Homo sapiens: one gene and its partners. The protein of the gene in region 1 interacts with the protein of each later gene in a pairwise test. Each region holds a gene or a part of one and is shown on either strand. Other genes may lie near its edges.

What was found.
Region 2: the proteins of EEF2KMT (region 1) and NR0B1 interact in binary tests that used the Homo sapiens proteins (3 or more experiments, as listed by UniProt).
Region 3: the proteins of EEF2KMT (region 1) and ZNF35 interact in binary tests that used the Homo sapiens proteins (3 or more experiments, as listed by UniProt).

The regions. Positions count from the first base shown.
Region 1 is NC_000016.10:5,087,796-5,091,295, forward strand, and holds part of EEF2KMT (protein-lysine N-methyltransferase EEF2KMT), read right to left. Parts: intron 2,771-3,500; coding exon 2,637-2,770; intron 2,555-2,636; coding exon 2,289-2,554; intron 1,462-2,288; coding exon 1,312-1,461; intron 1-1,311. UniProt on the Homo sapiens protein: Catalyzes the trimethylation of eukaryotic elongation factor 2 (EEF2) on 'Lys-525'.
Region 2 is NC_000023.11:30,307,113-30,310,937, reverse strand, and holds the start of NR0B1 (nuclear receptor subfamily 0 group B member 1), read left to right. Parts: upstream 1-1,547; 5' UTR 1,548-1,574; coding exon 1,575-2,742; intron 2,743-3,825. UniProt on the Homo sapiens protein: Nuclear receptor that lacks a DNA-binding domain and acts as a corepressor that inhibits the transcriptional activity of other nuclear receptors through heterodimeric interactions.
Region 3 is NC_000003.12:44,651,575-44,655,299, reverse strand, and holds part of ZNF35 (zinc finger protein 35), read right to left. Parts: intron 2,744-3,725; coding exon 2,599-2,743; intron 1-2,598. UniProt on the Homo sapiens protein: May be involved in transcriptional regulation. Involved in cell differentiation and/or proliferation.

The DNA of each region.
Region 1 (3,500 bases):
GTCTCAAAAAAAAAAAAAAAAAAAAAGGTGGGTGGGGGCTTATACTATGTGTGCTGCTTGGCACTGTTTTTTTCACTTAAAATATATTGCAGGTTTTTTTTCACGTAAGTATCTGAAGAAAGACTTCCTTTTTTTTTTTTTATTTTTTATTTCTTTGCTTTTTTGAGACAGGGTCTTGCTCTGTTGCCCAGGCTGGAGTGCAGTGGTGAGATCAGGGCTCACTGCAGCCTCCATCTCCTGGGCTCAAGCCATCCTCCCACCTCAGCCTCCTGAGTAGCTGGGACTACAGGCGTGTGCAACCACATCTGGCTAGCTTCTGTATGTTTTGTGAAGATGGGGTCCCACTATGTGGCCCAGGTTGGTCTTGAACACCTGGGGTCAAGTAGTCCTCTTGCCTTAGCCTCCTAAAGTGCTGGGATGACAGGCCTGAGCCCTGCGCCCGGCCAGCCTCCTGTGCGAGGTTGTGGGGGGACTCTGTCGTGGAACCCAGTACGTCTTCGTGTGCTGGCTTGTTTGTTGGCTCTGTAGTTAACGGGCTGCCCCACGTGGACAGGCACTGGGTTGTCTGTGTCTCTGTGTGCAGGCAGAGGCTGCTGCATGTGCATCTGTGCACATGGCTGCCAGGAGGGGCTGTGCTCAGGGGGAGCTGGGGCAAAGGCTGGTGGCACTGGGGGGCTTGGGTGTAGTGTGGAGGCGTGAGAGCCAGGTGGCTGGGGTGCAGTCTGCGGGAGCTCGGGGGTCTCTTGGCCTCCGTGTGTCCTAGTGTCTTTGTTGGTGAGATGGGACAGTGACAGCACACCCTCACAGTTGCTGGGGGCTGACAAATGTCAGGTCTGAGGACAGTTGCTGGCCCACTATGGGGCCAGTTCCCCTTCTCTACAGTCACCCTGCTCGTCTTCCACCGACTGGGTGCTCAGGACAGTGGCGTGGTGGATCCGCCTGTACATCCTGTGCTCCAGCGTCCTGCAGGCCACAGCTGTGTCCAGCCCTGACCCCGACTGCCCCTCCCGCCACCTCCATTTTATAGATGAGGAAACCGAGGCCCAAGGGCTTAGGGAACCCTGCTCTGAAGCACACAGTAGGGCTGCTGGGCTCAGACCCTCCCTCCCTGTGCTGAGCTGCCCTCCTCCTGCCGCAAGCCCCCCACGCCCCAAGCCCACCCTGCTCACTGGCCTCTGCCTGAGTTCCCCCCATGGTGTGGGAGTGTGGGGCAACCTAGCTTTTCCCCGGCACCCAGTTCTTTCACTTCCACTGGCGTCCTGCAGGGACAGCTCAGGGACCATGCAGGCCCGGGTGGGCGTGGAGGCTCACCTAGCTCGGTGGTGAACAGCTGGCACGTCTCTGGGTTGCGGACGGTAAAGGCCACGTAGACCTCAGGAGCCCGCTGGTGCTCCCGGCAGGCAGCCAGCCTCCGCAGGACCCCGACCAGCGACATGATGGCTTCTGGGCAATACAGCACATCTATGGTGAAAGCTTCAGGTTACTGAAAGGGACCAGTGGACAGGTCCAGGTCATGCTGACGTCAGCAGCAGGGCGAGGCCAGAGAGGCAGCGGTCATATGAGACTAGTAGATGCCATTTGACCATTTGGGCCATTAGATGGAAAGGCAATTACTTGGGTGAAAAAGGAGAACCCTTAGTAGAGAAAGCTGCAAAAGACCGAAGCAAAAGAAAAAAATCTCCAGACTCACTGGTGTTCCTTAAAAAACCAGCTCTGGTTCTTGGCCTATCTAGAGGGCTTTGAATGACACAAAGCCTGACCCTGCCATGAACTTCATGTTTCAGGCATCTGCTGATTTGTCTGCTGGCTTGCAGGGGTGGGCTTGTGTCCCTGGCCACCGCTGGACCTGTGGGTTTCAGGGCTGGGACCTAGGACCACAGGCAGAGCTCTGTTCCACCAGAGAGGGGACTGAGTGTGCTGGCAGGGGTGAGGGGTTTTCGGTGGCCCAGCCAAACACCACCTTCTCTCAAGGGCCCTGTCTTCGTCCCAGAAGTGGTTGTTTTCCTCCTGTGGTCTCTGAAGGACACAGGGCATGGCTCTGGGACAGAGCCATGTGGTAACGACTGGAACGGGAGTATGCCTGTCTCCAAAAAGAGGGCTGTGGGTTGAAGGTCACCTTAAGAGGCACCCCTGTCCTGTGATGTCACCCTGGAGGCCCAGAGTAACTCTTCTGGAAGCCCCATCATGTCCATGCCCGACAGCGTCCATTGTTCCCTTTTCCCAGAGCCAAGAGCTGGGTAGAGCTGCAAGGACACCACCTGCACAGGGTGCCCGGGGCTGGGCATTACCTGCTGCAATGACAACATCTGGCTGGAAGGCAGAGAGCTGATGGACCGTCGCGACGTCCCAGTCCAGCTGGGCCACTGTCACCCTGGGGCTGTCTAACTTGGCAGTGATGTCTGCCTCTAATGAGAGGCCATTGAGAAGGACATTCCCTCGGAGCTGCTCAAGGACCCGGCTGTGACAGTCGCTGAAGATGTATGCCCGGGGGCGGCACATCTTGCAGATGGCCAGGCCTGTGAGGCCAGCACCACTGCCAAGCTCTAGGACAGTCCTGGCGGGAGGAAAGGGGACCGTGTCTGCGACTGCACCAGGGTAAGCCTGCCTCGGTGCCCTGCCCTGCGCCCCGAGGTCACCTGTTAGTGAAGACTGCCGGGTTCTCGATGGCCCATTCTGCAAGGTAGAGGGCGGCGTCCCATGTGACCAGGCCTGTGGTACCGTAGGAGATGATGGCCGTGCTCTCGGAGAGTGTGACCGAGCCTCCCGAGGGCTGCACCAAGAGAAGGCGAGAGAGTCAGTCCAGCGATCAGAAGGCAAGTGGCTTAGAAGACAAGTAGCCCCACCACATGGCTGAATAAACCATGACAGGACCAATCGCCACTCAGCAATGAGAAGCAGCTAACTGTTGGCATGCCAACAGCTTTCACGGGCCTCAAGGGTGTCACGCGGTGTGAAAGACACTCATCTCAGGCCACACAGGATTCCATTCATCGAACCTTCCTGAGACAACGGAATTCTGGCGATGGAACACATGTCAGTGGTGGCCAGGGGACAGGTGTGGCTATGAAGGGGTGGCTGCCTTGTGATGATTCAATATGCTGTTTTTCCTTTGTGGTTTTCTGTATCTATGTTTTATCTTATTTTTTTTTGAGCTCTGTCACCCAGGCTGGAGTCAGTGGCACGATCTTGGCTCACTGCAACCTCTGCCTCCTGGGTTCAAGCAATTCTCCTGCCTCAGCCGCCCAGGTAGCTGCGAATACAGGCGTGTGCCACCATGTCCGGCTACTTTTTGTACTTTTTTTTGAGACAGAGATTTGCTCTCGTTGCCCAGGCTGGAGTGCAATAGCATGATCTTGGCTCACTACAACCTCCACCTCCTGGGTTGAAGAGATTCTCCTGCCTCAGCCTCCCTAGTAGCTGGGATTACAGGTGCCCACTACCACACCCCGCTAATTTTTGTATTTTTAGTAAAGATGGAGTTTCACCATGTTGGCCAGGCT
Region 2 (3,825 bases), on another chromosome or scaffold:
GTCCTGGAGAAGAAGAAAAAGAGAAAGAAAGAGAGAGAGAGAAGGAGTGAGAGAGGGAGGGAGGGAGGGAGGGAGGGAGGAAGGAAGGAAGGAAGGAAGGAAGGAAAGGAAGGAAGGAAGGAAGGAAGGAAGGAAAGGAAGGAAGGAAGGAAGGAAGGAAGGAAGGAAGGAAGGAAGGAAAAGAAACAGCAAAAAAAGAAAGAGGGAGGATGGGAGGGAGGGAAAAAGTAAAAATGATTCTGTATCAGCTGGTATATACCAACACCCTTCCCTGCCCCATGTCTTCACAGCTGTGTGGCAAGTGAAGACTAATGGATCCAGGCTTCCTGATGCTTCTATTTATCATTATTCACTTAGGAAGGGTGGGAAAAGAAATACTAATTACACACTTACCAATGGAATACTTTTACAAGGATCAAAATTTCTCACTGCGGCCATGAAAAAGAATGAGAGCTGGCGGCCATCATGCTTAGCAAAGTAATGCAGGAACAGAAAACCAAATATCACATGTTCTCACTTGCAAGTGGGAGCTAAATAAAGAGATCACCTGGACACTAGGAGGGGAACAACAGACACTGGAACCTACTTGAAGGTGGAGGGTGGGAAGAGGGAGAGAATGAGAAAAAATACCTATTGGATACTATTACCTGGGTGATGAAATAATCTGTACACCAAACCCCCACGACAAGCAATTCACTTATATAACAAACCCGCACATGTACTCCTGAACCTAAAAGTTAAAAGAAAAAAAAATATATACTAAAATGAAAACAATTCTCACTGTAACAATATTATCCCCTCGTAATTATTATATTCCTAAGTTTTAGGCACTTTTACATCCTGCTCGCTGCCCCCAGCTCTCTTAACACAGCATCCAGGACATAGTGGGCGCTTATAAATACTGATGGCATTAAACTGAGCGCTTATGATAGCATATTTAGAGCAGTGCTTTTCAAACGTCTAGGTGCATGTGAATCCCTGGGGACACCGTTAAAATGCAGATTCAGAGTTAGAAAGTCTGGTTGGAGCCTGAGATTGGGCATTTCCACCGAGTTCCCATATGATGCTTGTCTATGTTCTGTATTTTTCAAGGTCTCAGAAAATGAGACCTCCCTATCCATATACAAATATAAGTCACACAAACTGTGATAATTTAATGAAAGTTTACAAAGAGCATAGAAGTAGATGTTTCCTCTTTTCCCCTGCCCTCCCAATAAAGGGAACAAATTAGATGCGAGGGTTCAATGGAAAGAGTTGCAACAGCATCCAGGCGCTCGCTCTCCTCCGGTCTTCCTGAGACAGGGAAAGGGGTAATGAGAGGAAGGAGGAAAGTGTCCAGGAGCTCCCACGCTGCTGTTCTTCCATTTCCAGCTTTTAAAGAGCACCCGCCCCTTCGAACCACCGAGGTCATGGGCGAACACACCGGAGCGCAGCACCGCGCCCCCCCGCACACACCGCCCGCCTCCGCGCCCTTGCCCAGACCGAGGCGGCCGACGCGCCTGCGTGCGCGCTAGGTATAAATAGGTCCCAGGAGGCAGCCACTGGGCAGAACTGGGCTACGGGCGCCGCGGGCCATGGCGGGCGAGAACCACCAGTGGCAGGGCAGCATCCTCTACAACATGCTTATGAGCGCGAAGCAAACGCGCGCGGCTCCTGAGGCTCCAGAGACGCGGCTGGTGGATCAGTGCTGGGGCTGTTCGTGCGGCGATGAGCCCGGGGTGGGCAGAGAGGGGCTGCTGGGCGGGCGGAACGTGGCGCTCCTGTACCGCTGCTGCTTTTGCGGTAAAGACCACCCACGGCAGGGCAGCATCCTCTACAGCATGCTGACGAGCGCAAAGCAAACGTACGCGGCACCGAAGGCGCCCGAGGCGACGCTGGGTCCGTGCTGGGGCTGTTCGTGCGGCTCTGATCCCGGGGTGGGCAGAGCGGGGCTTCCGGGTGGGCGGCCCGTGGCACTCCTGTACCGCTGCTGCTTTTGTGGTGAAGACCACCCGCGGCAGGGCAGCATCCTCTACAGCTTGCTCACTAGCTCAAAGCAAACGCACGTGGCTCCGGCAGCGCCCGAGGCACGGCCAGGGGGCGCGTGGTGGGACCGCTCCTACTTCGCGCAGAGGCCAGGGGGTAAAGAGGCGCTACCAGGCGGGCGGGCCACGGCGCTTCTGTACCGCTGCTGCTTTTGCGGTGAAGACCACCCGCAGCAGGGCAGCACCCTCTACTGCGTGCCCACGAGCACAAATCAAGCGCAGGCGGCTCCGGAGGAGCGGCCGAGGGCCCCCTGGTGGGACACCTCCTCTGGTGCGCTGCGGCCGGTGGCGCTCAAGAGTCCACAGGTGGTCTGCGAGGCAGCCTCAGCGGGCCTGTTGAAGACGCTGCGCTTCGTCAAGTACTTGCCCTGCTTCCAGGTGCTGCCCCTGGACCAGCAGCTGGTGCTGGTGCGCAACTGCTGGGCGTCCCTGCTCATGCTTGAGCTGGCCCAGGACCGCTTGCAGTTCGAGACTGTGGAAGTCTCGGAGCCCAGCATGCTGCAGAAGATCCTCACCACCAGGCGGCGGGAGACCGGGGGCAACGAGCCACTGCCCGTGCCCACGCTGCAGCACCATTTGGCACCGCCGGCGGAGGCCAGGAAGGTGCCCTCCGCCTCCCAGGTCCAAGCCATCAAGTGCTTTCTTTCCAAATGCTGGAGTCTGAACATCAGTACCAAGGAGTACGCCTACCTCAAGGGGACCGTGCTCTTTAACCCGGGTAAGGGTACTGGCCTTAGGCGCCGGCTTTTCCCAGCTCACAAAAGCATCGGGCAGTGCCTATCTAGGGGCGCGGGCAGTAACGAGTTTTCAGTGATCAGGAGAGTGTCGGGGCAAAGGTGAAGAAATCGTGACTAACTCAGCAGAGTTGGGGTGGGGAGCTCCAGGAACCACTTCTGCTGGGTGGGCTGCTATCAGAAACTCAGCCAAGAGGAGGGGAGTTGTTTGTTTAGGTTTGTACTTGGCTCTCTACACATTTCTTACCATAGAAAAGTTTGTGCCTTCATGGGAAATGGTTATTCTTTCTTCTTTAGCTTTCTTTTAAGTCCAGAGCATATCTTTTTCTAAAAAAAGTTTTTGCTCACTGAAGATTCTGCAACATCGATTTCTGAAACCCCATTCTGAAATTTACTAGAACCTTTTTTGGGGGGAGGAAATCTATTAAGGCTAGCAAAAAAGGAAACATTTGTTAAAGGGTCCCATAGAGAGACTATTCCCTAGGGACACACAAGACACTAGATGTAGTGTTTCATGGGCCTGCCTCTGAATGGTTATTTGTATGGTCCTAAGCATCTGGACTATCCCTTCCTCCAAATCTCTGTGAATAATATCAGGTTGGCAAAGGGATAGGGAAAAAAGACACATTAGGGACTGAGAGCAGGAGCACTGTATTTTAGAATTCAAAGAGACTTTAGAGACCTGCTAATCAACCCCCTTTGCTCTGTAGCCTCCCCCCACCCCATTTTACTGAGTAGGTAGATGTGTCCCAAGGTCCCAAGTAAATGGTTGGTGTGTTGTGGCACCTGAGGGTCCTGTCTTCTGGGCCCAGTGGGATATTGGCTGCACTAAACTTTCAGGTTGTCTGTTGGGTGCTGGACACACTGTCCCACAGAGTGCAACCAAATCACTGGAGGAACGTCTCCCTGGACAGCCAGGCACCTTGTCTTGGGTGTTTCTCACTATTAGAATCATCTTCAACCAGCGTCCTTTCAAAATGATTGAAGTGGGAACAAAATTTTCCAGGCAACTTGAGTTGGGATAGTTTTTATAATGCTCCTTTTGTATCTTTTTTCCCTGGTGCTGG
Region 3 (3,725 bases), on another chromosome or scaffold:
CTGTGTTTATCAAGATTTTATTTACAAGATTTGTAAGTCTGCCCAGTTAGGTGTTTGGAATGTTTTAAAGAACTAAAGATATCAAATTTGTAATTATGTTTTATATAAAGAAATTTGATAAGCAGGTAGAATTAAATGTTTAAAATTTTTAATTAATTTATTTTTTTAGACAGAGTCTTGCTCTATTGCCCAGGCTGGAGTGCAGTGGTGCAATCTTGGCTCACTGCAACCTCTGTCTCCCGGGTTCAAGCGATTCTCCTGCTTCAGCTTCCCAAGTAGCTGGGACTATAGGCACGCACCACCATGCCTGGCTAATTTTTGAATTTTTAGTAGAGACAGGGTTTCACCATGTTGGCCAGGCTGGTCTCGAACTCCTGATATCAGGTGATTCACCCGCCTCCGCCTCCCAAAGTGCTAGGATTACAGGCTTGAGCCACTGCGCCCGGCCAAAATGTTTAAAAAATTTAATCTGTAAAATTTGAAGCTTAACTGAACATAAGTTAAAGAAAAAATACAAATGTTCTCACTTTTATACAAATATTTCTAGATGTATGGATGAAGTAAAAAGTTATGCTTAATGGCTTAAAAATTGGTTTTTAAATGAATAAACTTTAATAAATTCAACATTAATTAAAATATGAAAACTACAGTTAAAACTTGCTCAGACATTAAAAACCCAGTAACACATCACAATTTCCAAAGCACTTTCATGTATATTATACAATTTCATCATGAAGATGAAACTGTTCTCCTTCAGCTAAAAAAAGAGCAAGGTTGTGTCTTATTCATTTCTGTATCTCCAGCACCTATCACGCTGCCTGACACATAGGAAGGAGGCCGCCAACAAATCCTGTACTTAATGAACACACCCAATTTGTAGAACAGGAAATGGAGGTCCAGAGAGAGAAGGGACTTACTCAAGGTCACAGAGTTATTACAGGCAGGGCAGCAACCCCACTCAGATATCTCTCACACATAGAGCTCAGTGTTCCCACCATCGCCTGCTGACATCGCCATGGAAATAGTGTTGGCAGTGTTCCTGCCATCGCCATGGAAATAGCTGGCAGCACAAAATACTAAGTCTTGGGTATGAACATGGTCTTGAGGTAAGAGGCAAAGTAGGAAAAGGGAGCCCATTCCTGATGAGGTGCAGCTGTTGGGGTTAAGACTATGAATGGCTGATAAAGCTCAGAGACAGAAAATAAGTGACATGCACGCGAATGCACCAGAGAGAATGGAACACAAAGCAGAAAGTGGGGAACAGAAGCTGCTAAGAGTTTGGGAATAATTAAATATGAGACAAGAAAATCTAGGTGGAGATCCTTGTCTTCCCCATAGCACTGGTTTAAGAAAGTGACTTGGTCCCCAGATGCCTGAGGAACTGGTTAGGGAGGAGAGTGGGTTCAAAATATTCAATATCTGGCAGACTCATAAAAAGAATAGGGCTTGGCAATCAGCCAGTAAGTGCTTTGAAACACAGGACTCATGGCTACTGCATTCTTGACCCTCACTTATATGTCACTCCTCCACAGGCAAGCTTCTGCCACTGCCAGTGAGATCTTTAGAACATACTACCCTTTCTCTAGTCCTAGCTTAGAGAGAACAAGTTGATAAGCCATCAGTACCCTTCACGAAGACCTAGTTTTGAACATCATTATGGTTAACACAGCTGCTCAAAATCCTCTATAATTTGCACAAAGATCTATGAAAACAGAACATCTCCAGGGCATTTGCTCAAAATCACCACAAAAGTTGACTGTTCCTACCTCGGCTAGCATCTCTTGCAGGCTCACCAACCTATGCTAACTACAAAGCGTATAAAAAGGACATGTGCCTACATGTGTGCACAGAGATGAAACTCATTGAACAATAAATATCACTAAAAAGTGAGTTTGGAATTCACCTATTGTATGGTAAATACACCTGATGGCAACAACTTAAGCATACCCTGAGAATGATCCTGTATGGCAGACACACCTGAATATAGTTTGGAGTTCCAAGCAAAGGAATCCAGAAGTGGCCAACCTGGAGATCCATTCCTTATCCATTCCCCACCCCTTTCAGTGGAATGCGGGCCTTAAAGGGGATTGAGGCCCCTTGTTTTGGGTTAAATTAAGGCTGCCAGGTGGAGGTCATTAGGGAGAGGGTGTTAAGTGAAAATGCGACATAAACCGCATGCCTTTTGCAAGCAGTTGCAGCTCTCCTGTCCAGCCTGTGCCACTGGGCCATGTGGTTCTCCCGTGCCCAGTCCACTGCCTCTAGACTGTCTACCCTGTACATAAACACCTAGTAAAATTCTATGTTGTTTGCTGGCTCTGGGTCTCTTCTTCAGCCTCTTGAACCTGGTACCATATTGGTGTTGATCAGGTTTCAGCACAACACCTATGTTTGTCTAGTGTCTTGAGCCTGTGTGCAAAATAAGCCACTTCCCATGACAAATGCACAGGCATTTCAGCATTCCTCTTTCCAGCTTTCCTGGACACTTTCAATACCTCAGTACTCTGTTGGTCAACCTAGGAGACTGGATGCCCACCAGTCTCTGAAAAGATTTTGAGAAACCCCAATGGTCAGATTCAGAATCAGGGAACTGAACCATACCTAGAAAGTTCATGGTCCCATGAGTCTCCAGTATCTCACTCTTGGCCAGAGTCCCTGGTAATGAGTAGCTGCCAAGGGTTGAAGCAGCAGGTGCCTCCTGAGTTGCTTTCAGGACTACCGCCATATCCCAGGATATGTTCTGACCCTAGAGACAAGCAGGCACATGTTTAAGAGGGAACTGGTGGTAGGGGGTAGTGTGGTTACAATTTTGAGAATGAGAACATAATTATCTATTCCTGGAGGCCATAGAACAATTTTTAAAAACAGAAAAGGAAGCCAGAGTCTCCTCCAACCCCCAGGGTGAGTTGGGCAGAGAAACAAGCTAGCTACTTTCTTCCTTATTACTTTGATTGCACCTCACTGCTCACTCCAGAATCTAAACCTAGCTTACCAGTGAGTACATGATAAGAGGAGAGAGCATATGGGAAGAATTTTCAGAGTGAACTTTTGTGGGATCTAAAGATCAAAGCAGCAAGGTTTTGATGATATTATTACAGAAAGGCTCTGGGGGAACCTCTGCCCTCATTTGACTAGTAATGGTAAGGGGTGTGTTTGAAACATTAAGGACAGCACAGTGTACAGCCTCATGAATCAAAGTGTGGTGCAAAGATCAGCAGCAGTATCTGCATCACCTGGAAGCTTGCAAAACAAACAAACAAAGAACACAGAATCTCAGACCACCCCCAGACATCCTCAATCAGAATCTGAACTTTAACTGTTTTAACAAGAACCCCTAGGTGATTCCTATGCACATTAAAGTTTTAGAAGCTCTGGTTAGCATTGTCAAAACCTGACTGAAATTACCTGAAGAGTTTTAAAAAAACATGGATACCCAGGTCCCACCCTTAGATTCTTTTTTTTTTTTTTTTGAGGCAGGGTCTCACTCTATTGCCCAGGCTAGAGTGCAGTGGCATGAATTCGGCTCACTGCAACCTATGCCTCCAAGGCTCAATCAATCCTCCCACCTCAGCCTCCCAAGTAGCTGAGACTACAGGCACGTGCCACCATGCCAAGCTAATTTTTTGTATTTCGGCATTGCAAAACACGAGGTGTGCAATGTTGCTCAGGCTGGTCTTGAACTCCTGACCTCAAGTGATCCTCCCGCCTTGGCCTCCAAAGTGCTGGGA